7 linked regions of the Homo sapiens genome follow. The protein of the gene in region 1 purifies or fractionates together with the protein of each later gene. This does not show direct contact. Each region holds a gene or a part of one and is shown in the gene's direction. Other genes may lie near its edges.

Region 1 (4,445 bases):
GAGGTGGAGGTTGCAGTGAGCCCAGATCGCGCCACTGCACTCCAGCCTAGGCAACAGAGTGAGGCTCTGTCTCAAAAAAAAAAAAAAAAAAAAGGTGGGCATTCATTGACTCTTGCAACCAGGGGATGCAGAGTCAGTATCAGCTTCAGGGACAGCCGGATCTAGAGGGCTCAGACAATGTTGTTCAGACCATCTCTTGCTCCCTCCTTTAGTGCTGCTTATCCATCTCTATGTGTCTTTATAAGTTGGTCTCATTTTCTCCAGCCACAGACAGGGTAAGCCCTCTCCGCCCAGCGTAAAGACGGCTCCCAGTTGCCTTATATCCCATTCCTTAGGCTTGAGATCCAAAAGAATGCTCCTTCCTCTCAGCATCTAGACAGTAATCTCATGGAAGGCCTGTGATTGGTTCTGCAGAGTCGAAAGCCCACAGCCTGCCGCTCGCCATCCTATGGGGTGAGGGGCAGTCCCTCCAATCACATGGGATGGGAAGTCGATTCCCCAACCAAAAAAAGGATGTTGAGCTGAGAAAAACAACAGATGTCAGAGGAGTATCCTGGAGGAGCTGGGATGGGGCCAATCAGAGGGAGGCGGAGGAGGATGCTGGTATCAGTGGGAGGTGCTGTGGAAAGGCGGGGCTGAGTGGAGAAGGCCCTGGGGACACAGGGAAGGAGGACAGCCTGCAGCCTCCGGTGAGGAAAGTCCGCCTGTAGGTGGTGGCTCACAGCAGGAGAGGCAAGACAGTCCCGTGCTAGACAAGGCGCTTCCATTATTTAATCCTCCCAAACACCTTAGGAGGAAGACACTATTGTAATCCCCCTTATAGAGACAGAAAACAGCTCAGAGGGGCTCAGTAACTCGCCCAGGGTCACACAGGTAGGAAGGGGCAGTGCTGGGATTTCTGACTCCCGCCTAAGTTGGATCACCCATAGTCAGAATGTGCACCACGTACCTCCACTTTTCTCTCGTCCGTTTGCAATATCTGAGAATACATAGCAAGGAGGTAAAGCTGTCACCACAGAGCAACCTTGGGCGAGCCTTGGCCCTCTCGAGACTTTAGTCATCACATCTTTGAAATGGGTACAATTTTGCCTCCCGGACTCACAGCAAGCCGCTGGATCTTCGAAGCGCCCAGGGAGCTACGCGCATGCGCGAGGCTGCGAGGGCGGGCACAGGGGAACGCGGGGGAGGGCACAGCGGAGCGCGGGGGAGGTGCGCGCGCGCTCCGGCGCTTTCAAAAGTTACCTGGCGGGTGGGGCTGGAGTTGAGGGAGTTACCAGCTGCGCGCGCGCCGGCCCCACCCTCAGCCTCTTCAGGCACCTGTTGGCTTGAGGGTCCATTCGGCCGCAGATGCCATCCAATAGGCAGCCTCCCTGACCCAGTCCGGCCCCGCCCAACGCCTAGATCCACCAGTCCCCGGGCGGCGGCGTTCCCCTCCCTCGGAGGGCCCGCCCCTCTGGGCGCTTCTTCCGGGTGGGGCCCCGGGCCGAGGCGATGGCGCCCTGGGCGCTCCTCAGCCCTGGGGTCCTGGTGCGGACCGGGCACACCGTGCTGACCTGGGGAATCACGCTGGTGCTCTTCCTGCACGATACCGGTGAGCCGGACCCCGAGCGACCCCGGACCCACCCGATCCCGCGTACTTCCCCAGACGTTCTGGTCACACTGGGTCTCCCGCCTAATCCCTGGAGATCCTGGGATTGGCCCGATCTCCACCAGCTCCTGAAGCCCTCTCCCCATCTATCATTCCAAGAGCCACCTGCTCTCTGTCTGATACCCCGTTGATCCCTAATTAATCCCAGCATCTTCCTGATCATTGCCAAATGCCCTGTCCATCCCAGGACCCAGCCGGTGCCCACCAGATCCAAGGACCGACTTGAGCCCCATGTCCCCTGATCCTGGGACCCACATGATCCTTCCCAGGAACTGACCCCAAATCTTCCTATCCATACGATTAGGAGGCTCAACTAGATGCAAAGATTGGCATTCTGCCCACACCCACACCCCCCACACCCCCATGGCCACTAGCTGCCCAAGTCCAGGCAAACCCTCAGGCCAGAGAACACTCCATGGGGTGCGGCCTGTCTCCCATCTTCCCACAGATTCACCCACCCACCCACCTCCATTTCCCTCATTCCTCTTAGTAGCCCCCTACCCAGCGCCTCACCTGCCACAGGCAGCCTCCCCCACTGTCCCCCACAGCAGACCCCAGCCCTCCTTCCATGGCGGTCCAGCCTCAGTTTCTGGACTGGGGCCCCTTCTGGCTTTCCTCCCAAGACAGACCTCCTCCACCACCTTCACCCTTTAGCCTAAAAACTTGCTCAGGTCTCCGTATCAGAAAACCCCCCTCAAAACCCACCCTTTCTTCTCTGCTCCCCCTTACAACCAAGGGACACAGGATTTGTCTACACTCTGCTGTCTGGTGGTCTCATGCCCCCTCACTCCTTGCCCTGCACCCTACCTCCCCAAAATCCTGTCACCTCCCTGGGCTGAAGCCTGCTGGACCCTTCCGTATGCCCCTCTGCAGCATCTGAGCCTGCCAGCTGCACCCTTCCCACTGTATCTCTCTCAGGCATTTCAGACCTAACCAGTCTCTCACCATTGCAGAGCCAGAGACGCTGGACCCCTCTTCCCTCTCTCCCACATCCAGTCAGGTCTGGCTCCCTTGACCCAGCAGCCCCCTGTCCATTCCTTCCTCCCTCACTTCCTGCCAGGCCTTTGTAGCGACTCTCTTCTTCCTCCTGGCCAGATTCTCTGCCCCCAGGCTTCCCCTGATCCATTTCTTTAGCAATGAGGTTTTCCAAAACAGATCTGGCTCTATAACCTTCCATGGTTCCCTCTGACCCTCCAGATAAAAGTGCAGATGAACTGCTGGCCACACACAGCCACTCATGGAACCAACATCTCCAGGCCTTTGCTCAGCCAGGAACACACTTCCCCACCTCCAACTGCACCCCAACCCCACCCACTCCTGTTCTACCCGGCCCAGCCTCACTGTGCTCTCCGGCCTCTCCAGAGCTGCGGCAATGGGAGGAGCAGGGGGAGCTGCTCCTGCCCCTCACCTTCCTGCTCCTGGTGCTGGGCTCCCTGCTGCTCTACCTCGCTGTGTCACTCATGGACCCTGGCTACGTGAATGTGCAGCCCCAGCCTCAGGTAACCAGGGGCCCCTACTCTCACCAACAGGGACCTAACAACCAGCACCAGTCTCCATGCCAGGCTCTGTGCTGCAGGCTCTTGTGGGAGCAGTTCAGTGACTCCTCTTGCCACCCCTAGAGCCCCATCTACAGTAGTGAGGAAACTGCTGGGCCCCAGAGAAGGAAGAGACTTGCAAACATACACAGCCGCCCTCAGTCCAGGGTGCTCCGCCATACCCCACACCTCCATTCTGCATGGGATGGGTCCCAAACTCCATACCCAGAGCTAAGCCGGCCCCTAGGGGAGCTGCCCGCCAATGCCATCTGTCTCCCAAGGGGACCCTGTCTTACACCCCACCCCTCATTCCAGGAGGAGCTCAAAGAGGAGCAGACAGCCATGGTTCCTCCAGCCATCCCTCTTCGGCGCTGCAGATACTGCCTGGTGCTGGTGAGTGATGCACGGACACCCGTGGGAGAGGTTGGGCCAAAGCTGAGACTCCTCGACCTCCTCCTGCCCCACTGCCTGGGCCTCGCCCCTCCTCCAAGAAGGCCTTCCAGAATCAGGCCCTGATTCCTTCCCTCAGTGGTGGGCCCACAGCAGGGCTGGCACTGAGCCTCCACTCTCCTCCATGCCCACAGCAGCCCCTGAGGGCTCGGCACTGCCGTGAGTGCCGCCGTTGCGTCCGCCGCTACGACCACCACTGCCCCTGGATGGAGAACTGTGTGGGAGAGCGCAACCACCCACTCTTTGTGGTCTACCTGGCGCTGCAGCTGGTGGTGCTTCTGTGGGGCCTGTACCTGGCATGGTGGGTGCTGCTGCCCGGGTGTAGAGGGAGGGTGGGATGAATGCTCCCACAGGGGTGGACAGAGCCAGGACTCCCAGGGACCCGGCATGGGGAGGGAAGGGCTCCCCTGCCCTCCCCCAGCACCAGGCCCCTGTCCCCTGCACCGCAGGTCAGGCCTCCGGTTCTTCCAGCCCTGGGGTCAGTGGTTGCGGTCCAGCGGGCTCCTGTTCGCCACCTTCCTGCTGCTGTCCCTCTTCTCGTTGGTGGCCAGCCTGCTCCTCGTCTCGCACCTCTACCTGGTGGCCAGCAACACCACCACCTGGGAATTCATCTCCTCACACCGCATCGCCTATCTCCGCCAGCGCCCCAGCAACCCCTTCGACCGAGGCCTGACCCGCAACCTGGCCCACTTCTTCTGTGGATGGCCCTCAGGGTCCTGGGAGACCCTCTGGGCTGAGGAGGAGGAAGAGGGCAGCAGCCCAGCTGTTTAGGGTTGCTGGAGGCCGGGCTACCGTCTTGTGCCTGAAAACCA
Region 2 (3,688 bases), on another chromosome or scaffold:
ACGTGTGGCTAATTTTACATTTTTAGTAGAGACGGGGTTTCTCCATGTTGGTCAGGCTGGTCTCGAACTCCCGACCTCAGGTGATCCACCCGCCTCAGCTTCCCACAGTGCTGGGATTACAGGCGTGAACCACCACACCTGGCTAATTTTTGTATATTTAATAGAGATGGGGTTTCACCGTGTTGGCTGGGCTGGTCTCAAACTCCTGACCTCAAGTGATCCGCCCGCCTCGGGCTCGCAGAGTACTGGGATTGCAGGTGTGACCCACCACGCCCGACCTCAGACCACAAACATTATCAAGCACCTACTGTGTGTCAGGCATCGAGGTGGAGGGCTTCCCTCTAAAGGCCTTAGAGTTTGGGGGTAAACAGATACTCCTCCATAATGATATTGGTGAATGTATGATTGCAAACTGGGACATGCCACGAGTATGTCTGTATAGCACAGGGAACTGTTTGAAACTGTGGTGGGGGCTGGGCAGGTGTGGGGGGGGTCCAGGTGGTGCCATGCAGGTGATGTTGGATCTGAGATCTGAAGCTGCAGGCAATATCCAGGCAGAGGGAACAGTACAGTGGCCCTGAGGTGGGAGTGTGCCAGGAAGCAGTGGGGCTGACGTGGAAGGAGTAAAGAAGTGGAGATAAGGGCCAGGCACCGTGGCTCACACCTGTAATCCCAGCACTTTGGGAGGCTGAGGCAGGTGGATCACCTGAGGTCAGGGGTTTGAGACTAGCCTTGCCAGCATGGCGAAACCCAGTCTCTACAAAAAAAATACAAAAATTAGCGGGGCGTGGTTGTGGGCACCTGTAATCCCAGCTACTCGGGAGGCTGAGGCAGGAGAACTGCTTGAACCTGGGAGGCAGAGGTTTCAGTGAGCCGAGATCGCGCCACTGCACTCGAGCCTGGGTGACAGAGTGAGACTCTCTCTCAAAAAAAAAAAAGTGGAGATACGGCCAAGGAGGTTAACAAGGCTGTGGAGGGATTGAGCCTTCATTGCAAGGGCAGTATTGTATCTCAGTGTAGGTCTTGAAGCCCATTGACCTAGTTTCTTATTTTAGTTCCTCTATTTAGTAGTTCTAAGATGAGTAAGAGTAATCTTGGGCAAATTATTTAATCCTCTAAGGTCCACTGACTTTTTTTTTTTTTTTTTTTTTTCTGCGATAGAGCCTTGCTCTGTCACCCACGCTGGAGTGCGATGGAGTGATCTCTGCTCACCACAACCTCCACCTCCCGGGTTCAAGCGATTCTCCTGTCTCAGCTCCCTGACTAGCTGGGATTACAGGCATATGCCACTGTGCCCGGCTAATTTTTGTATTTTTAGTAGAGACGGGGTTTCACCCTGTTGGTCAGGCTGGTCTCGAACTCCTGACCTCAGGTGATCCACCCACCTCGGCCTTCCAAAGTGCTGCCAATAAAGGCATGAGCCCCTGTGCCTGGCCATTTCATTGTTTTGAATTTTTAATTTAATATAATAGAGATAGGCCAGGTGTTGTGGCTCAGGCTCTACTATAATAACAATAATAATAGAGGCAGTGTCTCCCTATATTGCCAGGCTGGTCTTGAACTCTGGACTCAAGGGATCCTCCTGCCTCAGCCTGCCAAAGTGCAAGGACTACAGGCATGAGCCACCACGCCCAGCCAGGTCCACTGACTTCAGTCAACAAATGTTTATCTAGCAGCTACCAAGGCCGTGTGAGTCTCCAGATTGCTAGGGATGCAGCAGTAAATGGGACTGGGTCTAGTGAGGATGTGAGCATTAAACCTGAAAGCCCTAAACATGCATAAAATTGCAGCTGCACCAAGAGCTCAGGAGGGGTGCCCAGTGCTAGGAGGACATAAAATAGGCTCTAGAGGCCGGGCATGGTGGCCCACACCTGTAATCCCAGCACTTTGGGAAGCCAAGGCAGGCGGATCATGAACGTCAGGAGATTGAGACCATCCTGGCTAACATGGTGAAACCCCATCTCTACTAAAAATACAAAAAAATTAGTCAGGTGTGCTGGTACGCACCTGTAGTCCCAGCTACTCAGGAGGCTGAGGTAAGAGAATCGCTTGAACCCGGGAGGTGGAGGTTGCACTGAGCCAAGGTCCCACCACTGCACTCCAGCCTGGGTGACAGAGCAAGATTCCGTCTCAGGAGGGAAAAAAAAAAGGCTCTCAGCCAGACGCAGGGGCCCACATGTATAATCCCAGCACTTTGGGAGGCCGAGGCAGGCAGATCGCTTGAGCTCAGGAGTTTGAAAACAGCCTGGGCAACATGGCAAAACCCCATCTCCACAAAAAAATACAAAAATTAGCTGGGTATGCTGGAACATGCCTGTAGTCCCAGCTCCTTGTAAGCCTGAGGTGGAAGGATCACTTGAGCCTGGGAGGTCAAGGCTGCAGTGAGCTGAGATGGGGCCACTGCACTCTAGCCTGAGCAACACAGTGAGACCCTGTCTCAAAAAAAAAACAAAAAAAAAACGCCCACTCTAGGTGTCGTAGGTGGTTTCCTGGAGGAGGTGGGACTTGAGGACTTGCTCTTTGAGCTGAAAGCAGAAGGTCGATGGGGCATAAATTAGATTTAAGTCAGGACAATAGCACATGCAGAGGCCCAGGGGTTAAAGAAAGCAAGGGTGAGGCTGAGTGCAGTGGCTCATACCTGTAGTCCCAGCACTTGGGGAGGCCAAGGTGGGCGAATCTCTTAAGCCCAGGATGGGTAATGGGTAACGTGGCAAAAACCCATCTCTACAAAAAATACAAAGGTTAGCCGGGCACAGTGGTGCACATCTGTAATCCCAACTACTCCGGAGGCTGAGGCGGGAGGATCACTTGAGCCCAGGAGGCAGAGGTTGCAGTGAGCTGAGATTGCACCACTACAATCCAGCCTGGGCTACAGAGTGAGACCGTGAGACCCTGTCTCAAAAAAAGAAAAAAAAAAAAGGCCGGGTGTGCGGTGGCTCACGCCTGTAATCCCAGCACTTTGGGAGGCTGCGAGGCAGGTGGATCACCTGAAGTCAGGCGTTTGAGACCAGCCTGGCCAACATGGTGAAACCCCGTCTCTACTAAAAATACAAAAATGAGCCAGGCGTGGTGGCACGTGCCTGTAGTCCCAGCTCCTCCGGAGGCTGAGGCAGAATTGCTTGAACCTGGAAGGCAGAGGTTGTAGTGAGCCAAGATCGTACCATGGCACTCCAGTCTGGGCAACAGAGTGAGATTCCGTCTCAAAAAAAAAAAAAAAAGACGGAGAGAGAGAAAGAGGATTTTGTGTGGATGGTGGGGCCCTGCCAGCGGGGGTGAGGGGTTGGGATGTCACTAATCCAAAGAGGGTTTCTCAGCAGGGGAAGGATGTGGTCCCAGCATAGGATGGACTCAGGGGGTGGGGGCTGCTCTGGGAAGGACACGGAGCAGGGACAGCTCGTTTCTCCTTGCCCAGACGGTGATCGTTGGCTCCTACTTGATTGCACACGGTTTCTTCAGCGTCTATGGCATGTGTGTGGACACGCTGTTCCTCTGCTTCTGTGAGTGACCCCTCACCCCAAACCTTGCTGGGCCCCGAATCCCTTCTTTCCACTGGGCATCACATCACCCTCCAACGGGGCAACACGCTTGCCTGCCCCCAGCTTCCCCAGGGCTTGGCTGTCCCTCGTCCTGGGTCCCCAGCCTGTCTTCCTGGTTTCCTTTTGCGCTTAGAAGCAGCTCCGACCTCCTG
Region 3 (3,647 bases), on another chromosome or scaffold:
TGTAATTACTCTTAGCTTGATATAGATCCATAAAATCAAAGATTTTAAATCAGAGAAGGTTCATTACCTATTGTTGGAAGAGGAATTAAGCAGATAACATTTTAATGGCTTGGAAGACAGCAGTGCTTTGTGCTTTAATAGATTTCTTTCCCAAGATCTGTAAAGTATCATTTATTCTCAAAAATTAATTGCTGACACACAAAAAACAATCTCTGACAGAGATAGCAAGCATTTTACTCATCTTCTGATATATATAAGCCCTTCCCTTTCTAGAAAATCCTTTTCTCATGATTTGTTTGCCTGTATTAACATCAGCTATTTACTGAACCTGGACTCTGCACTTGGCATTGTGCTGGGCACTTAAAAGCTTGTATTATTCCCAACCCTTACAGACAGTGTGTATTTCTGATGTGGAAACTGGAGCTCAGAGAGATCGTCCTGAACAAGGTCACACAGTTGTTTAGTGACAGAACCAGGATTGGAAATTTGTCTCTAACCCAAAAGCCTGTCTTCTTTTCATAGCACCAGACTATCTCTCACTGTAATTCAAAGTTATTTGATCAGGGGAATTAAGTCAACTAATTCTCTGGACTTGTCTCATATTTATTTCTCACATCCAAACCGCATCCAAAAATGACAGAATATATTTTCTTTCTCATGCCCCTTAAGCACCAGTCAACCCACTGGCAGGGCTGTGTGATTTTCCACAGACCATATACCAAAGTCAATTTCTGATCAATTTAAAAGTCAAATGTTGTTAAAAGTCAGAAAATATAAAAATAACATATCAGTTCCTTTGAGGAATTGTAAGTTCTGAGTTTTAAAGCAATAAAACAAGTCATAAAGGAGTAGATCCTTTCCTGACAATATGAAAGTGTAAAACTTCTATACAACAAAAAACAACCGAAACAGAACTGTAAACAATAGGTTAGAATGTTCATGATAACAAAAATCAGGGTTAAGATTTCAGTTATACAGAGAATCCTTCACATGTGAAAGAGTGGGAAGCTGTTATAACTCTCCTAAATGAGTGAATGATTGATTCTTCCCACAACAAAAAATAAAAATGATAGGAAATTTATGGAAAAATTCATTCTTGCAAATAAATTCAAATGAAAGCAACCTTGAGGTACCATTACATATCTCCTAAATTAGCAAGTGATTTTTTCCTATCAAAATATTAACACCTAAAGCTGAGAAGTTCGTGATGTGACACTGATGCATTCCCATGCTGATGTCACCGCTGTAAGCTGGCACAGTTGACATCATTATGTGGTTGTGCTTACATTCATATTTAGAACCAAAAAAATGTTTCAGATACTTTGCCTGATGTATTAATTTGCTCATATTACCCTAACAAAGTACCACAGACTAAGTGACTTAAACAAGAGAAATTTATTTTCCTACAGTTTTGGAGACCAGAAGTCTGATGTCAAGGTGTAAGGTTGGTTTCTTCCCAGGCCTCTCTCCTTGGCGTGTCGACGGCCGCCTTCTCACTGTCCTCACATGGCTGACCCTTGCTTTGTGTGCGTGTCCTGTCTTCTCTTCTTGTAAGGACACCGGTTATATCGGAGTCCATCCTGATGACCTCATTTTACCTTCATTGCCTCTTTAAAGTCCCTGTCTGTAAATAAAGTCACATTGTGAGGTACTGAGGGTAAGGGCTTCGACATACGAATTTGTGCGGGACACAGTTCAGCCCGTAACACTGCAGTGATACCTCCCCTGGTAACTTGTCCTATGCCGATAATTTCGATGAAGAAGAAAGTATGTGCAAAAAAACATTCATGGTAGTGTTTCAGTAATATCAGACAACTTAAAATGGCTGAAATATTTATAGAAGTCAAATAACTTATAACAACTATTTTGCAGCCATTAAAATTTTTAAGACTGAAAACTATGTAAAAAACAATTTAAAAATTCTTAGCATATAATGAGAAAAATAGAATACAAATATCATACGATTAATTGTGGGAAAAAAATCTATGCACATGGACAGTTACTGGAGAGGAAAGGAGGGTGAAATAATTCTCTTGTGGTGACCCAAACATGGATGACATACAAATTACCGTCACACAGCCTGAAGAGCCAGACCTCAGGTGCCTTGGGAGTATGGAGGAAGGAGGAATCAGCTTGGCCAAGAGAGTTAAACAAAATGTCAGCAAGAAGGTGGCATGTTTTTTTCCAACTATTTCCACTTTTTTATTTTTATCTTAAAAAGAAAAAGTAGGTTAGAATGAATAATGCATGGTCAGAGAGTACCAAGCTTCTGTGGCAGATAGTACTAAAGTTTTAGTATGTTTAGTACAAATTTTAGTCAAAAACAAGAAAAAACAAAGACAACTTGAGGCTTAACAAATTAATCCAGCAACTCAGCAGTGTGCTGATGTCACAGTGTTGGAGAGTGCTTTGGGACAGGACACCCAGCACTCGGCTGTGCTGATGGGAAGGATTCTGTCTGGCCTTGGTGCCCTGATATGTAGAAAGGAACATCTTGGCTGTCTATGACCTGTTCCTTCTCTGAACCTCAGACGACTCTTTAAAATGTACTTGTTGGAATGGGTCATTACAAAGGCCATCTCTTTCTTTCTTCTTTCATTTTCTATTTTGTTCCCAAATACACACAGAAAAATTATCTATGCAGTATTTTCCGTGCAGCTGACAATCTTAAAGTATACTCTGGCCATTCTGTATTTCTTGCAAAGAGCCAGGCCCAGGTAGAATGTCAGAGAAAGGAAATAAGATAAAGTCACCCACCCTGCGTTTCCAGCACTTGATTTTATCTGAAGCCAAACCCAAAATTCCTCCCAACCTTTCCCTGCTCACTGCCCAAGCTCAATGCAGGTCAGCAAACGCAGACCTTTATCGTTCTTTAGGGAACCTCTGAGTGGGCCGGGGCCAAGGGGAAGGAAGCATGCATTTCATTTCCGTGTCTTTAGCCTTAGGCATTCTCAGCCAAGAAGGCAAGCAGCAGGCTTTTGGAGAAAAGACAGCCTACCCTGCCCTTCCCCACCCCTTGCCCTCCCTGCCAGAATGAGAGCAGCTTCTGAAAAGCTGGGTATATCCAGCCAGAAACACGGGAAGGATTTGGTTGCACTGGATAGAAACACAAACTATGAAGGGAATGAGAGCAGCAGCGGCCGCAGGCGTTAACAGAACCCCTGTCTCTTCCTCAGGCTGGAAGAATCCATCACTACCTCTCTAGGAGACTGTCGGGCTCCCAGAGGGGAGGGTTAGTGAGTAAACTGAAAGAATAATAAAGGTGTCCCAGCCTAGAAGACGTATTCAGGGCAACAAAGAAAGTATTGCCCTGCAGTGTTCAGATTCTGAGCCTTTTATCTGTGCATCTTATCAAACATGTGCCTGTAGCATCCTGGCACACACTGTTCTGTCCTGCAGGGTTAGGCAGGGGGATTCTTTGTTTTGAAGGATGAACCAAGATAACACATACAGTAACTCAGATGCCCTGTGTGTGTGCACGCATTAGCATGTGCATGCACGTGGCTGGAGGCAGCCACACAGACTGAAAGAATGTGAGCTTTGGAGTGATTCATTCACTTGGGTATTCATTCCACAAATCTTGCTCAGCTCCTAGCATGTGACCACCCATTCTGGACATGGGGATACAGGGGTGAACAGAAGAGACA
Region 4 (3,688 bases), on another chromosome or scaffold:
GGAAACATCACTTTAGGAATATTTATCTGGCCCCAGGCACTGGATGGATGAAAATAGGGTGAGTCTGGAGGCAGGAAAAGCAGTGAGGAGGCTGGGGGCATCATTTGGGTCAGAGGAAGGGGCCTGAGCAGGCTTATGGAGACGGGGGACAGATGGTAGTGGCTTGTACCAGGTGAGGGAGCAGGAGGAGACACAAAGAGGCCTGTATGGATTTAAACCCTGGGTAACAGGCAAGAGGAGGAATCATTAACGTGGCAAAGGAGTCAAGAGGCTGGCAGCTGAGGGCATTTGACAGGCAGAGAAGACCAGTGTGGCTGGAGTAGGGTGAGTGAGACCAGAGGAATGGGCAGAGTCCCATCACACAGGGCTAGGAGCATGTGGGACTCTATATTCAGGTCACTGATGAGCCGATACAGTGGTGTGATCCACTTGACTTTTTTTCAGACATGGTCTCACTCTGTTGCCCAGGCTGGAGTGCAGTGGTTCACTGCAGCCTCGACCTCCTGGGCTCAAACAATTCTCTTGCCTAAGCCTCCCAAGTAGCTAGGACTACAGGTGCATGCCACCACATAGAGATGAGGTCTTGCTATATTGTCCAGGCTGGTCTTGGACTCCTGGGCTCCAGTGATCCTCCCACCTCAGCCTCCCAAAGTGCTGGGATTACAGGTGTGAGCCACCACACCTGGCTAGGTTTACATTTTTAGAATATCCCTTGGAAAGTGGTTGGAGAGTAGCAAAAGTGTGTTGTTTGGTAAAATATCTCTGGAAGGAAACTTCAGACAATAGTAACAGCAGTCTTCTTGGCAGGCAACCTGGGAGACAGGGATAAATGGGAGACTCCCTGTTTATAACATACCCCTTTGTACTTTCTAAGTTTTATACTATGTACATGTATTCATTGACTGAATAAATAGCTTTATAAAGTCGTTTTTATAAAAGAGAAGGTTGGGAGGAGCTATCAGGTAGCAACTGCAGATGTCTAAGGAAGAGGTCATGGTGGTCATTTGGACTGGGTGCTGGTGGTGGAGTCAAAGTGGACCAAGTCAAGAGACTTTTAGGACAATGAATTAATTGTGGAGAGGGACTGAATGTGGGGGTGAGGAAGTAGGAAGCAGCAAGGATGATCCCTGGCTTCTAGGTTGAGTCGTAGGTTGGATGAAGTGAGGTGGGAAAGACTGGATAAACAGGTTTAGGAAAGATGTAGGTTATGGAGGAGGGGATGAACTTGGCTTCTGACAAGGTGAGTTTGAAACATCCCTGGGATATCGGGTGGAGAGCAAGCTGGCATCTAGGGATAGATTTGGTTGTATCACCCCAGCGAGGAGGGCAGGAGTTCCAAGAATAGAAAGAGGTGCTGAGAAGGAGCTGGATGGGAGAGGAGAAGCACCTCAGGATGGTGGAATCCCTGGGAGCTCTTGAACCAGAGGTGGAGGGAACTGCAAGAGACACAGGAGATATTGGCAGAATGGTGTCAGGTAATCTGAGGGACAGAGGAGAGAAATAGGGTCATGTTACTGGGAGGCCAAGGACAGTGAGTTCCAGGAAATATTCTGGAGCAGTGAGAAGGATCACAGGTATCTTGGAAAGAACCGTTTGTCCTGTGGGTGGGGGCAAGAGCCAAACTACAAAGCTAGACTAATGGAGGAGGCTTCTAGTCAGGCAGGGGGCTCACAGCCCTCTCCACCTCATCCCACAGACGGAGTGCTTTAACCATGTGCGGTTCCTGCAGCGGCTCAATTCTACCCACCTCTATGCATGTGGGACTCACGCCTTCCAGCCCCTCTGTGCAGCCATTGTGAGTATACCTGTGTTGTGCCAGATCTCTGTTGACTTCATTAGGGATGGGATCATGTTCAAGATGCCAAAGAAGAGACTCAGAGCCAGTGAAGGAGACGGATGGTTTATTAAGGGGACTTCCATACAGGGCACTCCAGTGGCGGCGGGCTGCACTGGAGAACCATTCCCCTTTGTAAAAACCATGCAGTTTTTATAGCATTTTCACTTAGCATCCTCCCCCTAATCACCTCCACCTGGCAAACTTCATTTAACCCAAAACAAAGGGCCTTGATCCCCTGGACAGCATGTGTTCCACAGGATGGGCTAGGGGCTCAGATGTTCTTCATAGATAAGGAGTGAATCTCTAGGTTGGCCACTTGCAGATTTGGAACTCCAAACATACATTGTTTTGAGGCCATAAGGTCATTCTCAGGGGATGCTTAAGTTATTGCTGTCAGGTGCATCTGCCATACAACCTGCCCCTATCCCTGATCGCTGATCCCTGACCCCAGACTGATCTGACTTTGAGCCACTGTCCCTGCCTGTCTTCGGAACCACTTACTGCTGGTTCCTTGTTCCCTAGGATGCTGAGGCCTTCACCTTGCCAACCAGCTTCGAGGAGGGGAAGGAGAAGTGTCCTTATGACCCAGCCCGTGGCTTCACAGGCCTCATCATTGGTGAGCAGGCCTTCTTCCCTATCACAGACATGGTATTTTTAGGATGTGGATCTCATCTCTAGGACCTGCCACCATGTATATGTCATGTGCCCTGTTGAATATGACATGTCTCTCATGCCTGGAATATCCCCACGCCAGATGGAGGCCTCTACACAGCCACTAGGTATGAATTCCGGAGCATTCCTGACATCCGCCGGAGCCGCCACCCACACTCCCTGAGAACTGAGGAGACACCAATGCATTGGCTCAATGGTTAGGAGGATGAGGCACAGGATGATGGGGGGTAGGGGACTATTTCTTCATTTTTACTCCCTTGGCCAGCTGACCACCCCACCCCCAAATCCCCAGGTGAGCCTGTCCATTCCATTCCTGTGTGTTGTCAAGTGAGGGGTCAGCCTCAGAGTGAGGGAAAGGAATCCCCAGCCTGTCTCAAAAGCCTCTCAAACTGCCTGACCCACAGATGCGGAGTTTGTGTTCTCCGTCCTCGTGCGGGAGAGCAAGGCCAGTGCAGTGGGTGATGATGACAAGGTGTACTACTTCTTCACGGAGCGTGCCACTGAGGAGGGCTCTGGCAGCTTCACTCAGAGCCGCAGCAGTCACCGTGTGGCCCGTGTGGCTCGTGTCTGCAAGGTGGATTGGGCTGACGTTGGGGCACGGGTATAGAGGCTGGACCTCTGACCCTGGCCCCTTATCCCGTGCCTCTACCTCCCCAGGGAGACCTGGGAGGGAAGAAGATCCTGCAGAAGAAGTGGACTTCCTTCCTGAAAGCCCGTCTCATCTGCCACATTCCACTGTATGAGACACTGCGTGGGGTCTGCAGCCTGGATGCTGAAACCTCAAGCCGTACACACTTCTATGCAGCCTTCACGCTGAGCACACAGTGGTCAGTGCAGGGACAATCGGGAGGCAAGAAACTGCGGACAGCATAGGGGCTGGAGCAGAGGTCAATGAGGATGAGATAGGATCCACTGTGGGGAGGTCTGGCTGCAAAGTGAGAATTTTTTTTTTTTTTTAAGAGGGAGTCTTGCTCTGTTGCCAGGCTGGAGTGCAGTGGCGCGATCTCGGCTCACTGCAATCTCCGCCTCCCGGGTTCAAGTGATTATCCTGCCTCGGCCTCCCGAGTAGCTGGGACTATAGGCGTGTGCCACCACGCCTGGCTAATTTTTGTATTTTTAATAGAGATGGGGTTTCACTGTGTTGCCCAGGATGGTCTCGATCTCTTGACCTCGTGATCT
Region 5 (4,337 bases), on another chromosome or scaffold:
ATAAATATGAATTGAATATGTTGCCTGCTTGGAAGCATAAAAGAGAGTAAATAGTTCTGGGGACTGAGCTGCTTCTCTGTGAGTTTAGTTTGCCCCACACCAGACATGTATGTACGCAGCACTGCCCAACTTTTACATAAGATCTCAGGTTGATGGTCTACATAGTACTGAACAATAGGAGAACCCTGAAATATCTGTCAGGCTGGGCGCAGTGGCTCACGCCTGTAACCCCAGCACTTTAGGAGGCCGAGGCGGGCAGATCACTTGAGCTGAGTTTGAAACCAACCTGGGCAACACGACGAAACCCTGTCTCTATAAAAATATGCAAAAATTGGCCGAGCACGGTGGCTCACGCCTGTAATCCCAGCACTTTGGGAGGCTGAGGCGGGCGGATCACAAGGTCAGGAGATCGAGACCATCCTAGCCAACATGGTGAAACCCTGTCTCTACTAAAAATACAAAAAATTAACTGGGCGTGGTGGCACACGCCTGTAGTACCAGCTACTAGGGAGGCTGGGGCAGGAGAATCGCTTGAACCCGGGAGGCGGAGGTTGCAGTGAGCCGAGATTGCGCCACTGCACTCCAGCCTGGCGACAGAGTGGGAATCCGTCTCAAAAAAAAAAAAAATTTAGCTGGGCGTGGTGGTGCGAGCCTGTAGTCCCAGCTCCTCGGGAGGCTGAGGTGGGAGGCTCACTGGAGCCCAGGAGGTTGAGGCTGCAGTGAGCCGAGATCGCACTACTGCACTCCAGCCTGGGCGACAGAGCTAGACCCTGTCTCAAATAAATAAATAATAAAAATCTAAGACTACGATAACCCTACAGTTGGCCCGCGGGGCATTCAACCTTCCATGGATTGAAAATATTCGGGAAAAATAAAGATAATAAAACATAATACAAATAAATACAGTATAACAACTAGTTCCATAGCACTTGCATTGTATTAGGTATTATACTTAATCTAGGGGATGGTTTAAATATCTGGGAAGGTGTATGCAGGTTATATGCAAACACTATACCATTTTACATAAGGGACTTGACCGTCTGCGGATTCTGGTGTCTACGGGGTCCTGGAACTAATCCCCATTTCATGAGAGGGGATGACTGTACACACGTCAGTGTGTATTAGGCCATCAAAACGCCTCCGGGAAATTCTCGGGTTATTTTGAAAACCCCTCCCCTCCCCAAGACCTTTAACCTAGAGGGCTGTTGGGGCGGTCTCCTAGGAGACCACACAGAAACGACTGCGCATGCGTGCATTCCCCCCCCCCCCCCCCCCCCCCCCCCCGCCCCGGCTGATGCAACCTCACGCTGCCGTGCGGCTCTACCTCGAGTAAGGAAGCCGACAGGGAAATCTGGCAAAACCAATCGGCGGCCACACGGAAGTGGGCGGAAAGGCCCGCCCCCCGGGGATTTTGCGAGTGACGTTGGGCGGCGCGGCGCTAGGGACGTAGACGCCCAACAGTCCTGCGTCTCTTCCGGCGTCTAGGGGGGTGTCCTGCCGGCGCGCGGGCCCTGCGGCCATTTTGGGCTTCGCTTCCACCGCACCAGCCGGCCTACCCAGTCCTTCCGGTATCGCGTTGCTCAGGGGCTTTTCAACCCTCTGTCAGTCGGAAAACCATCGCCGAGGCCGTGGGGGGACTCCTATCCATGGTGTTGAAGCGTCGAGCCGACTAGGGAACCTCCTTCCCCGCCAGGATGGAAGTCGCATCAGTCGCCGCCTATTGCGCGGGCTGTTCTTCCCTGTGTTCTGCCGCCCGCTGCCGCATTCGCTGCCCTCTGTGGCTTTTCTGCTGGCTCGAAGATCGGCCTGGAGCAGCGACGCCACCGCTGGGCAAGGCCGAGACTCTGTAGGCTTCCTCCGAATCCCGTCGACCTCCAGCCGCTGAGCGCCGCGGCCCTACCTGAGAGACTGTCAAGAAAAAGGAGATGGAGCCGGGGACAGGCGGATCGCGGAAACGGCTTGGCCCTCGGGCGGGCTTCCGGTTCTGGCCACCCTTTTTCCCTCGGCGATCGCAAGCAGGCTCTTCTAAGTTCCCGACGCCTCTTGGCCCGGAAAACTCCGGGAACCCCACACTGCTTTCCTCTGCCCAGCCCGAGACTCGGGTCAGTTACTGGACGAAACTGCTCTCCCAGCTCCTTGCGCCGCTCCCCGGATTGCTTCAGAAGGTGCTAATTTGGAGCCAACTTTTCGGTGGAATGTTTCCGACCAGATGGCTAGATTTTGCTGGAGTCTACAGCGCCCTGAGAGCCCTGAAGGGACGGGAGAAACCAGCCGCCCCCACAGCGCAGAAATCTTTGAGTTCGCTGCAGCTCGACTCCTCAGACCCCTCGGTCACCAGTCCCCTTGATTGGCTAGAGGAGGGGATCCACTGGCAATACTCGCCCCCAGACCTAAAATTGGAGCTTAAGGCCAAGGGAAGTGCTTTGGACCCTGCAGCACAGGCTTTTCTCTTAGAGCAGCAGCTGTGGGGAGTGGAGCTGTTGCCCAGTAGCCTTCAATCCCGTCTGTACTCTAACCGGGAACTTGGCTCTTCGCCCTCTGGGCCTCTAAACATTCAACGCATAGACAATTTCAGTGTGGTATCCTATTTGCTGAACCCTTCCTACCTGGACTGCTTTCCTAGGCTAGAAGTCAGCTATCAGAACAGTGATGGAAATAGCGAGGTAGTCGGCTTCCAGACACTAACCCCAGAGAGCAGCTGCCTGAGAGAGGACCATTGTCATCCCCAGCCGCTGAGTGCAGAACTCATTCCGGCCTCGTGGCAGGGATGTCCACCTCTTTCTACGGAAGGCCTACCAGAAATTCACCATCTTCGCATGAAACGGCTGGAATTCCTTCAACAGGCTAGCAAGGGGCAAGATTTACCCACCCCTGACCAGGATAATGGCTACCACAGCCTGGAGGAGGAACACAGCCTTCTCCGGATGGATCCAAAACACTGCAGAGATAACCCAACACAGTTTGTTCCTGCTGCTGGAGACATTCCTGGAAACACCCAGGAATCCACTGAAGAAAAAATAGAATTATTAACTACAGAGGTTCCACTTGCTTTGGAAGAAGAGAGCCCTTCTGAGGGCTGTCCATCTAGTGAGATACCTATGGAAAAGGAGCCTGGAGAGGGCCGAATAAGTGTAGTTGATTACTCATACCTAGAAGGTGACCTTCCCATTTCTGCCAGACCAGCTTGTAGTAACAAACTGATAGATTATATTTTGGGAGGTGCATCCAGTGACCTGGAAACAAGTTCTGATCCAGAAGGTGAGGATTGGGATGAGGAAGCTGAGGATGATGGTTTTGATAGTGATAGCTCACTGTCAGACTCAGACCTTGAACAAGACCCTGAAGGGCTTCACCTTTGGAACTCTTTCTGCAGTGTAGATCCTTATAATCCCCAGAACTTTACAGCAACAATTCAGACTGCTGCCAGAATTGTTCCTGAAGAGCCTTCTGATTCAGAGAAGGATTTGTCTGGCAAGTCTGATCTAGAGAATTCCTCCCAGTCTGGAAGCCTTCCTGAGACCCCTGAGCATAGTTCTGGGGAGGAAGATGACTGGGAATCTAGTGCAGATGAAGCAGAGAGTCTCAAACTGTGGAACTCATTCTGTAATTCTGATGACCCCTACAACCCTTTAAATTTTAAGGCTCCTTTTCAAACATCAGGGGAAAATGAGAAAGGCTGTCGTGACTCAAAGACCCCATCTGAGTCCATTGTGGCCATTTCTGAGTGTCACACCTTACTTTCTTGTAAGGTGCAGCTGTTGGGGAGCCAAGAAAGTGAATGTCCAGACTCGGTACAGCGTGACGTTCTTTCTGGAGGAAGACACACACATGTCAAAAGAAAAAAGGTTTGTTTCTTGTCTTTTAACATGCCTGATATGTTCTGACTGTTTTTATATGCTTAAATATAGCAGCATGACTTTGGAGGCTTAGGAGTGCATGTATTTTTGAGGAAGGCCTCTAAATTCATATACTTGGATTGAGAAATATGTAAATGACCCTTCTCCTCCTGTCCCTCACCCCCCACCCCAATGCACATTGTTGCTGTCCAAAACGAACATACCAGTGTGTAGATGTTAGCAGGAAAGTGCCATTTTTATTTGGGTTGGTAGTTCTGGACTGTTTCCTTACAAGCTTCAATTTTTCACACTTTTTAACGGACTATTAAACTTTGTGTGTACACGATTTAATTTTTCTAGAGATTGAAAAGGTCCTGTTACAGCCATAGAGTTTTAAAATGATTTTAAATGTATGTTGTCTGCAAATACTTAATATTTTTTTTGCATATAACAAGAGTGTCTTCATTCCTGTCCATTACAACCCAAAGGGATGATGATATC
Region 6 (4,137 bases), on another chromosome or scaffold:
CTGTGCTTATCACTGGCTTGCTGTGAATAAACACGTGGGTAAATCTCTGTTGGAGGCTCTCAGCTCTGAAGGCTGTGAGACGCCTGATTTCCCACTCCACACCTCTATATTTCTGTGTGTATCTTTAATTCCTCTAGCACCGCTGGGTTAGGGTCTCCAGGACCGAGCTGGTCTCGGCACTGGGGGAGCTGCCCTGATAGGTAGTGAGCTCCCTGTCCCTGGGGCTATCAAGCAGAGCCAGGTGCCGCCCCAGGGAGCTCCTTCTTTGAGGGCGGTCCAGAACCCTGGAACCCCAGCCCAGGCCCAGGCCTGAATCCGGAGCTTGTTTAACCCAGCAATTCCGGGACCCCATCCCCGGTCGCTGGCATCCGCTGTCATTCGAGAGCCTGGGGCTGACGGGGAGAGCTGGTCCGGCCTTCTCTGGGCCGCCTTTCCTCCCCAGCCTCGTCAGGAAGGGGCACAGGACAGCCGAGCTGTGCGACAGCCCGCTGGGCCTGCGCCCCAGGGCCTCCGGCGACACTTGGAGTCCGCAGCTGAGTCACTGACTCTCACCCGGGCTCCCCCGCTTCCGCCCGGCCGTGATTTGCTCCGGTTTCAAAAGGGAGGAAGGGCGGGAATGCTCGGGAAGAGCCTGGGGTTGGCAGGACCTTTAGGGGGTGGAATGAATGTCGTGAGGGCGAGTAAGGAGGTACCGGCTGGGGCTGAAAATGCGCACGGGGACCATGAGCGTGATTCGCCCTGAGCCGCTGCGAACGCCCTGCGAGCTGGGGTGGCCCTGGAGGTCCTGGAGCAGAAGCTAGGTTCCCGCAGAGTCCGCTGCAGCGCCGCTGGCGATCGGGCTGGGTCCCATTTTCCACGAAAAGTCCCGCGGCTTCGGCCGCGGAGGTGCTGGAGCCTTTGCGCTCAGACGAAGGGCCGAACGGCCAGGGCCAGGCCGCGTCTTCAGAGCCTGGCGAGGGTCTCGCGCTGCTGGGAAGGCGGAGACGCCGGGGCGCGCGTGCACCCTCGCGCCTGCAGCGCCGCGCACGGCCGCCAGGTGCCGCTGTGGCGCTCAGCGCGCCGCCCGCCCCGCCCCAGGGAACGCGAAAGTGGCGCGGGCCTGGACGGCGGGACGGACCACGTAGGGCGCTGAGAAGGTCGCGCCACGGTGGGCGGGGCTCCGGGCCCCTCCCCCTCGGCCGCCCTCGCGCTGTGGTTCGCTCCGGGCGCGCTGCGCTCGTGAGTTCCCAGGAGGCCTGGCGGGCACCGTAACCAGCGCCGCGGACACCGGCACCGGCGCCACGGACTCCGCAGGACCCCGCGCCCGCCGCCGCCGCTATGCTGGGGCTGCTGGTGGCGTTGCTGGCCCTGGGGCTCGCTGTCTTTGCGCTGCTGGACGTCTGGTACCTGGTGCGCCTTCCGTGCGCCGTGCTGCGCGCGCGCCTGCTGCAGCCGCGCGTCCGTGACCTGCTAGCTGAGCAGCGCTTCCCGGGCCGCGTGCTGCCCTCGGACTTGGACCTGCTGCTGCACATGAACAACGCGCGCTACCTGCGCGAGGCCGACTTTGCGCGCGTCGCGCACCTGACCCGCTGCGGGGTGCTCGGGGCGCTGAGGGAGTTGCGGGCGCACACGGTGCTGGCGGCCTCGTGCGCGCGCCACCGCCGCTCGCTGCGCCTGCTGGAGCCCTTCGAGGTGCGCACCCGCCTGCTGGGCTGGGACGACCGCGCGTTCTACCTGGAGGCGCGCTTTGTCAGCCTGCGGGACGGCTTCGTGTGCGCGCTGCTGCGCTTCCGGCAGCACCTGCTGGGCACCTCACCCGAGCGCGTCGTGCAGCACCTGTGCCAGCGCAGGGTGAGCGGCCCCCGCCCCTGGCCCCGGAGCACGGCCTTTGTGGGACCTCCGGGGGCTCCTCCTAGTCCCTGGCCCCCTCCCCTAGGGAAGGCCCGCTGCCTGCACCTCTTTCGGATACTGCTGGAGTCCTGCCTCTTACCGCTCCCGCCCCTCCCTCTCTACCGGGGGCATTCCTCACTGATGCCTTTGTTCGTGGGGGTTCCTAGGGTCCCCGAATCAACTCTTCATAGTCGGGCTTAGCGTGCTTCCCTCCTGCCATTTCTTAACCTGGCCCCTCACGGTTTCGTGTTCACCCCTCTCCTCTCTCCTGGTACTCTGTTCTGTGGCTGGAGTGTTGACCTCTCTGGTCCTTGGTCCTGAATATAGGTTGGAGAGGTGATCAGTTAGAAGAGGTTCCTAGGAGTTCCCGAGGACCTGAGCCCCCCTTTCACACAGCTTAGAGCTGAAGGGCTGGGTTCTGGTCACCTGGGTTTGGGGTTGAGGTATTGAGCCGAGTAGCTGAAAGCCTTCTGGCCTTTCTGCAGTTGGAGAGAGGAGGGCCATGCACCTCCCAGGGCTCGCTCCTCCCAGCAGGGCAGAACCGCCCCTGCAGCATGGCACCTGGGGCCCTGGGGACGGCCACCAGGCCGATGTGGCCAGACCAGTTGCCAGAAAAGTTGCCTGGAGCGTCCGTGCAGGAAGCCAGGGCCTGTGCACCCCTGGTGTGCCCTTAGGGCACTGCCCTCTCCGGTCTCGGACAGGTGCCTCCCGAGCAGACGAGGGTCAACGTCTCATCTCAGTCCTGATGTTACAGGAAAGGGATTCAGATCCAGACCTCAAGGGAGGGTTCTTGGATCTTGTGTAAGAAAGAACTCAGGGCGAGTCTGCAGCGCACAGTGAAAGCAAGTTTATTAAGGTAAAGCGGTGAAAGAATAGCTGGTCCGTAGACCCAGTAGCATGTTCCTGTAAGAGGAGGAACGCGTCCACCCTAGGTGCAATGCTTGTATATATGGGGAGATGTGATCTGCTACAAGGGTTTGTGATAAAGGAGTAATTTTCTTAATTACTATATTTTGCAAGAATCAATATTACTATTTTCTTTTTTTTTTTTTTTTTTTTCAGACGGATTCTCACTCTGTCGCCCAGGCTGGAGTGCAGTGGCGTGATCTCGGCTCACTGCAACCTCCGCCTTCCGGGTTCACGCCATTCTCCTGCTTCAGCCTCCCCACTAGCTGGGACTACGGCGCCAGCCACCACGCCCGGCTAATTTTTTGTATTTTTAGTAGAGACGGGGTTTCAAAATCAGGAATGCCTTTGTTCTCCAGACATCGGGATATCTGGACACTCCCAAGTCTGGGTCTCTTTAGTAAACATTATTAATTTGTTCCCTTAACTGTGTTTGAAACGCTTGTTCCCCGGTGCCGTAAAGAAATAGCACGTGAACATAAATTTAATTTCCTCAGCAAGGCCATTTTTACTTCCTGCAGAAAGGGTACACTCGCCAGCAGCTTTGCCATGAGAGTACACCGAACAAAGGAGACAGGCTCATTTATAACCTGATGTGTAACAATCGCTTTTATTTAAAGTGCGAACGGAATATTTAATCCATTTCAGCCAGGGATTTGCATCTTGATACTCTCTCGATGGCTAAGGTCTGTTTTAGATCTCTTATTTTTACAATAGACACCCTAGTTTTATTATTAGATGTAGAAGCAACCGGTGTGAGATCTAGAACTGAGGCTACTGAAGAAGGGGGAGATGGGGGAATAATGCGTATTTAAAAAATACCTAGGGGGTCTTTTCCATTTATGTCAATCCCCATACCACAGAAGCGACTGAGGGCAGGTCTAGAGTTAGTTAAGGTGGAGGTGGTGATAGAGAAGGACAGGGTTACACTGATAAGGCTGACAGTTCGAAAGGGTAGTCCTTTCAGTGAAATAGATGAGGGGTTTTAGATCTGCACAGACCTTTTTCTTGGAAGTTTAACTTTGCTCCTGAGCAGTTGAATGTGTATAGTCCCGTTTACTACAAAGTTGGCAGGCTATAGGAGCAGAACATTGGCATCTTGGCTGCAGGTCATTACGATAATGAGAGCTAGGGGTAACCATGTCCATCAGAGGGCTGGGACGTAAGCATTTGTGTGAAAAGGCTAGCTGTTGTTGATCTTTTACATTTCCGCAAGGTATGACAGAACAAGCATTCAAGGCGGTGGTCTGAGGTGAGTTAGTTACAGTAATAACAAAGGCGCTAGTAACAATAAGGAAAGGAAGCAATATGAAGGTACAGGAAAATTAAGCTTTCTTTAACTTTAACTTAGTAGGATTGGTC
Region 7 (3,688 bases), on another chromosome or scaffold:
CCTGTGCTGGGGAGACCTGGCCACCACCCAGGACCTGCTCCTGCTTAGCACTGTAACCATGGACAGGTCACCCCTCCAGCCCCGCAAAACCCCACTGTCTCCTCATCAGTTACATGCCGGGGTGAGTAAGGTCAAAAGAGGTGCTTAGCTCGGAGGCCTTTGTAGCTCTGATGGCCCGGAATCCTGTAGATTTGAGATCAGTGAGGACATCCATGGAAAATTATATAGGATCTGAGACCATTTTGGAAGTGAGATATCAGACCTGGACTCACCCCTCTGGCTAGGTTCAAGCCCCACAAGTTCCATGCAAGATGGGATATTTCCTTAGCCCCCAAAGGCGAGGAATTAGCATGCTGTCCCAGAGTGCAGGGTGCCTCTTGGGGAGCACCCAGAACTGGTCCCTGACCGCAGGGCGTCTGGAGCACGTTCACTGATGGAGGTCAGTGCTGCAGAGATGGGATGTCTGCCCTGCTCGGGCTCACCGCGTGAGGGGGACAGGAGAGCTGGCCCTGGTGCCATTAGAGCAGATGCCGTAGAACAAGAGGGTAGATGGGGCTCAGGGTAAATTAGGTTTTTCTTGAGTCCCCCAACATTCAGTAACTTTTCCTTGTTGCAGTTTTCTTGATAGAAAGTGGGGGTCCAGACTCAGGGCACTCACTAGCAAGGAGGACACAGATGCAGCTTTAGCAGCCTGATTTTTCGGGCCCTGACCCTCAGCCAGGGCCACGCTGCTCCCGGATCTGCTTCAGGAACAGGTTCCCGCTGCTGCCACAGACCATCCACGTGATTTTACAGAAGGGGAAGATGTGGCTGGGGAAACATTATCTGGGGTCAAACTGTCAACCAGTGGCACACCTGTGCCTGTGCTTAAGACCAGGGAGTCTTTTTTTTTTTTTTTTGAGATGGAGTCACGCTGTCACCCAGGCTGGAGTGCAGTGGCGCGATCTTGGCTCACTGCAACCTCTGCCTCCCGGGTGCAAGAGATTCTCCTGCCTCAGCCTCCCAAGTAGCTGTGATTACAGGCGTGTACCACCATGCCTGGCTAATTTTTGTATTTTTAGTAAAGATGGAGTTTCACTATGTTGGCCAGTCTGGTCTCAAACTCCTGACCTCAAGTGATCCACCCACCTCAGCCTCCCAGAGTGCTGGGATGACAGGCGTGAGTCACCGTGCCCGGCCCCAGGGAGTCGTGACTGTGGCTCCCAGATGCACTGTTGAACCCGTTCAGACAGCTCTCAGCCCGTCTCAGTGACTATTCAGACTGATGGCTGTGTCATCACAGCCAGGATTCCTGTTTTTGGAGTTGATGCTTTTTCTTTGGAACTGGGAATAAAAGGGTAGTGGGTGCCCCAGCTCCACCTACCCGCCCCTTGTCAGCCCTCTAGTGATGAGGACATTCTTCTCTCTCCCATCACTTTCCCCCTCAGATCTTCCTTTCCAAATGAGCCAGATGTGAGTTCCTTTAACAGTTCCCTGAAGCCCTAGAGTTGGGAGCCATTCATGTCCCCAGGCTGCCAATGTATATGGCCCCCACATCAATACAGCAGGAAGTGCCAGGACTGCCTCAGCCCAGCAGCTGTCTCCGATTACAGGTCTCCTGCTCAGGAGCCAGGGGCTGCTCCCTACAATGCTGTCATTAGCGGACCCTCCCTGCAGAGCTCTGGGTGGGGGGCCCGGGGAGCCAGGAAAGACTGGAGCTTTGGGTGTAGATCCAGGCCACATGGAGCCACGTGGGAGCATGGGGAAGACTTCCCGGAAAGGGATTTTAGAGCTGGAGGGATTGGTCCTCCGAGTATGCCCTCTTTTGTTCCTTTCCTCCTCCACCTCTGTCTTTCCCAGCTCTTCCCCACCACTCTGTCCCATCTGCCCCACTCACGCTGCCTCCCTGGCTCACAGGCCGACAACCCCTCATTCCCCAACCCACGCCGGAGGCTGCGCCTGCAGGACCTGGCTGACCGAGTGGTGGATGCCTCTGAAGATGAGCACGAGCTCAACCAGCTGCTCAACGAGGCCCTGCTTGAGCGAGAGTCCGCCCAAGTGTAAGCGCCACCCGGAAGCGTCCAGGCCCACCACTCCTCCCGGGCCCTGACAAGGGATTCAGGAAACTGAGCATCCCAAATACGGCCCCCCTGCTAGGCCAAGGCAGATGTGGCATTTGGGATTCATGGGGCTTGTTCCCACTGCAGAGTAAAGAAGAGAAACACCTTCCTCTTGTCCATGCGGTTCATGGACCCCGAGATGGAAACCCGCTACTCGGTGGAGAAGGAGAAGCAGAGTGGGGCTGCCTTCAGCTGCTCCTGCGTCGTCCTGCTCTGCACGGCCCTGGTCGAGATACTCATCGACCCCTGGTGAGGGAGGGGCCGGGGAGGGCCACGAGTTTCCTCGGCTGCGGTGGTGCCGGGCGGGGGGCGGGGGCAGGTGTCTCAGCGGGAGCCTGACATTGGGGAGCAAGCCAGTCTCTGCTCCCTGACCCCCACTGGGACGGCCCCCACAGGCCCCAGGAGTGCTAGACGGCACCCTGGGCATCCTTCCTTTTCCCTGCCCCGCGTTTTGGAGCAGTCCTAGCGTCAGAATGGGGATCTGGCCAGGATCAAGAGAGCTGAGGGACAGAGGCCTCCAGAAGGCTGGAGACCTTGGCTAGATGGGCCCACACTGATTCTTGGGACAAAGATGGGGACACTGCGTCAGTCTCAGTCACCAAGGCTGACCTGGCCCCTCTCTTGGCTCATCTTGGTAAAGATAGATTTTAGGCTGTGGGCACAGACTGACGCCCTCTCTAACGCAGCAGTAGGTCCTCCAGGGCAAGGTGTGGCCTCCTGGAGTCCCCAGCTGGTGAAGCCCTGTCTGAGGGTGACGACCACTCTCTTGTTCTCCCTTTCTCCCCTCGGCCAATCGGGGATTCCCCGTCACAGAGGAGGGGTCTGGAACCCTGCTGGGATTACAGTTTGTCAGGAGCCTTGGGCTGGGTCACACTATCTAAGGTTGCGGGTGTGTGACCACGTGCAGGCCACTGCAGGCTCCGGCAGCATCTGTTTCCTCATCTGTGAAATGAGGAGAACAACCCCTGCCCTAGCGGACACTCACGACTGTGGTGAGGCTCAAATTCACTCATTCCATAAGTATTGATTGGTTGTCTGCTTCATGCGTGGGGATCAAGGGCTGGGGCTATGGCAGCGATGCGGCACACAGAAACCCCTGCTCTCGTGAAACTTGGGTTCTGGTAGGGGAAGCTACAGGCAAAAGCAATTAAACAATTAAAATATGCATCCATGCGAGAGTAAGTACTGCAGACACAGGGAAGGCAAGGAAGGGAGGCGGGTATGCTGCTGGGGAGCTTTGTTTTGTTTTGTTTGCATTTTGATGTGGGATGGTCAGAGCAGGACTTGCTGGCAGGATAATATTTCAGTAACGCCTGGAAGCGGGTGAGGGGCGAGCCTTCTCCTATCTGGGGGACACCTGCTTCGGATAGAGGTGCTGAGGCTGGAGTGGCCTGGCCCCTGGAGGCACAGTGAGGAGGCATCGCATTGGGAACGGGCCACAGGAAGAGTAGCAGGAGTCCAGCACAGACGTGGGGCCTCCTACACGCCACTGCAGGGTGCCAGCTTCCACTCTTAACACAGGAGGCCGCCAGAACAAGGGAGCAGAGGAGTCCCCTGTTGTGACATATGCCTGGAGAGGCTCACTCCTG

The links.
Region 2: the proteins of ZDHHC12 (region 1) and SLC44A2 purify together in Homo sapiens (affinity purification with mass spectrometry; one large-scale study listed by BioGRID and IntAct). This does not show direct contact.
Region 3: the proteins of ZDHHC12 (region 1) and NBAS purify together in Homo sapiens (affinity purification with mass spectrometry; one large-scale study listed by BioGRID and IntAct). This does not show direct contact.
Region 4: the proteins of ZDHHC12 (region 1) and SEMA4G purify together in Homo sapiens (affinity purification with mass spectrometry; one large-scale study listed by BioGRID and IntAct). This does not show direct contact.
Region 5: the proteins of ZDHHC12 (region 1) and PPP1R15B purify together in Homo sapiens (affinity purification with mass spectrometry; one large-scale study listed by BioGRID and IntAct). This does not show direct contact.
Region 6: the proteins of ZDHHC12 (region 1) and THEM6 purify together in Homo sapiens (affinity purification with mass spectrometry; one large-scale study listed by BioGRID and IntAct). This does not show direct contact.
Region 7: the proteins of ZDHHC12 (region 1) and ADCY3 purify together in Homo sapiens (affinity purification with mass spectrometry; one large-scale study listed by BioGRID and IntAct). This does not show direct contact.

Annotation. Positions count from the first base shown.
Region 1 is NC_000009.12:128,721,140-128,725,584, reverse strand, and holds the start of ZDHHC12 (palmitoyltransferase ZDHHC12), read left to right. Parts: upstream 1-1,457; 5' UTR 1,458-1,491; coding exon 1,492-1,591; intron 1,592-2,845; coding exon of another isoform or gene 2,846-3,010; coding exon 3,011-3,147; intron 3,148-3,498; coding exon 3,499-3,576; intron 3,577-3,767; coding exon 3,768-3,934; intron 3,935-4,054; coding exon of another isoform or gene 4,055-4,082; coding exon 4,083-4,404; 3' UTR 4,405-4,445. UniProt on the Homo sapiens protein: Palmitoyltransferase that catalyzes the addition of palmitate onto various protein substrates. Has a palmitoyltransferase activity toward gephyrin/GPHN, regulating its clustering at synapses and its function in gamma-aminobutyric acid receptor clustering.
Region 2 is NC_000019.10:10,638,955-10,642,642, forward strand, and holds part of SLC44A2 (choline transporter-like protein 2), read left to right. Parts: intron 1-3,412; coding exon 3,413-3,497; intron 3,498-3,688.
Region 3 is NC_000002.12:15,169,702-15,173,348, reverse strand, and holds part of NBAS (NBAS subunit of NRZ tethering complex), read left to right. Parts: intron 1-3,647. UniProt on the Homo sapiens protein: Involved in Golgi-to-endoplasmic reticulum (ER) retrograde transport; the function is proposed to depend on its association in the NRZ complex which is believed to play a role in SNARE assembly at the ER. Required for normal embryonic development.
Region 4 is NC_000010.11:100,975,936-100,979,623, forward strand, and holds part of SEMA4G (semaphorin-4G isoform 1 precursor), read left to right. Parts: intron 1-1,696; coding exon 1,697-1,795; intron 1,796-1,884; exon of another isoform or gene 1,885-2,359; coding exon 2,360-2,453; exon of another isoform or gene 2,454-2,591; coding exon 2,592-2,705; exon of another isoform or gene 2,706-2,882; coding exon of another isoform or gene 2,883-2,913; coding exon 2,914-3,083; exon of another isoform or gene 3,084-3,166; coding exon 3,167-3,336; coding exon of another isoform or gene 3,337-3,437; intron 3,438-3,688. Other genes in the region: MRPL43 (large ribosomal subunit protein mL43), read right to left, coding at 2,883-3,076. UniProt on the Homo sapiens protein: Cell surface receptor for PLXNB2. May play a role in axon guidance.
Region 5 is NC_000001.11:204,409,000-204,413,336, reverse strand, and holds the start of PPP1R15B (protein phosphatase 1 regulatory subunit 15B), read left to right. Parts: upstream 1-1,519; 5' UTR 1,520-1,925; coding exon 1,926-3,845; intron 3,846-4,337. UniProt on the Homo sapiens protein: Maintains low levels of EIF2S1 phosphorylation in unstressed cells by promoting its dephosphorylation by PP1.
Region 6 is NC_000008.11:142,726,030-142,730,166, forward strand, and holds the start of THEM6 (protein THEM6), read left to right. Parts: upstream 1-1,193; 5' UTR 1,194-1,317; coding exon 1,318-1,830; intron 1,831-2,931; exon of another isoform or gene 2,932-3,461; intron 3,462-4,137.
Region 7 is NC_000002.12:24,833,145-24,836,832, reverse strand, and holds part of ADCY3 (adenylate cyclase type 3), read left to right. Parts: intron 1-1,839; coding exon of another isoform or gene 1,840-1,896; coding exon 1,897-2,039; intron 2,040-2,186; coding exon 2,187-2,348; intron 2,349-2,366; exon of another isoform or gene 2,367-3,091; intron 3,092-3,688.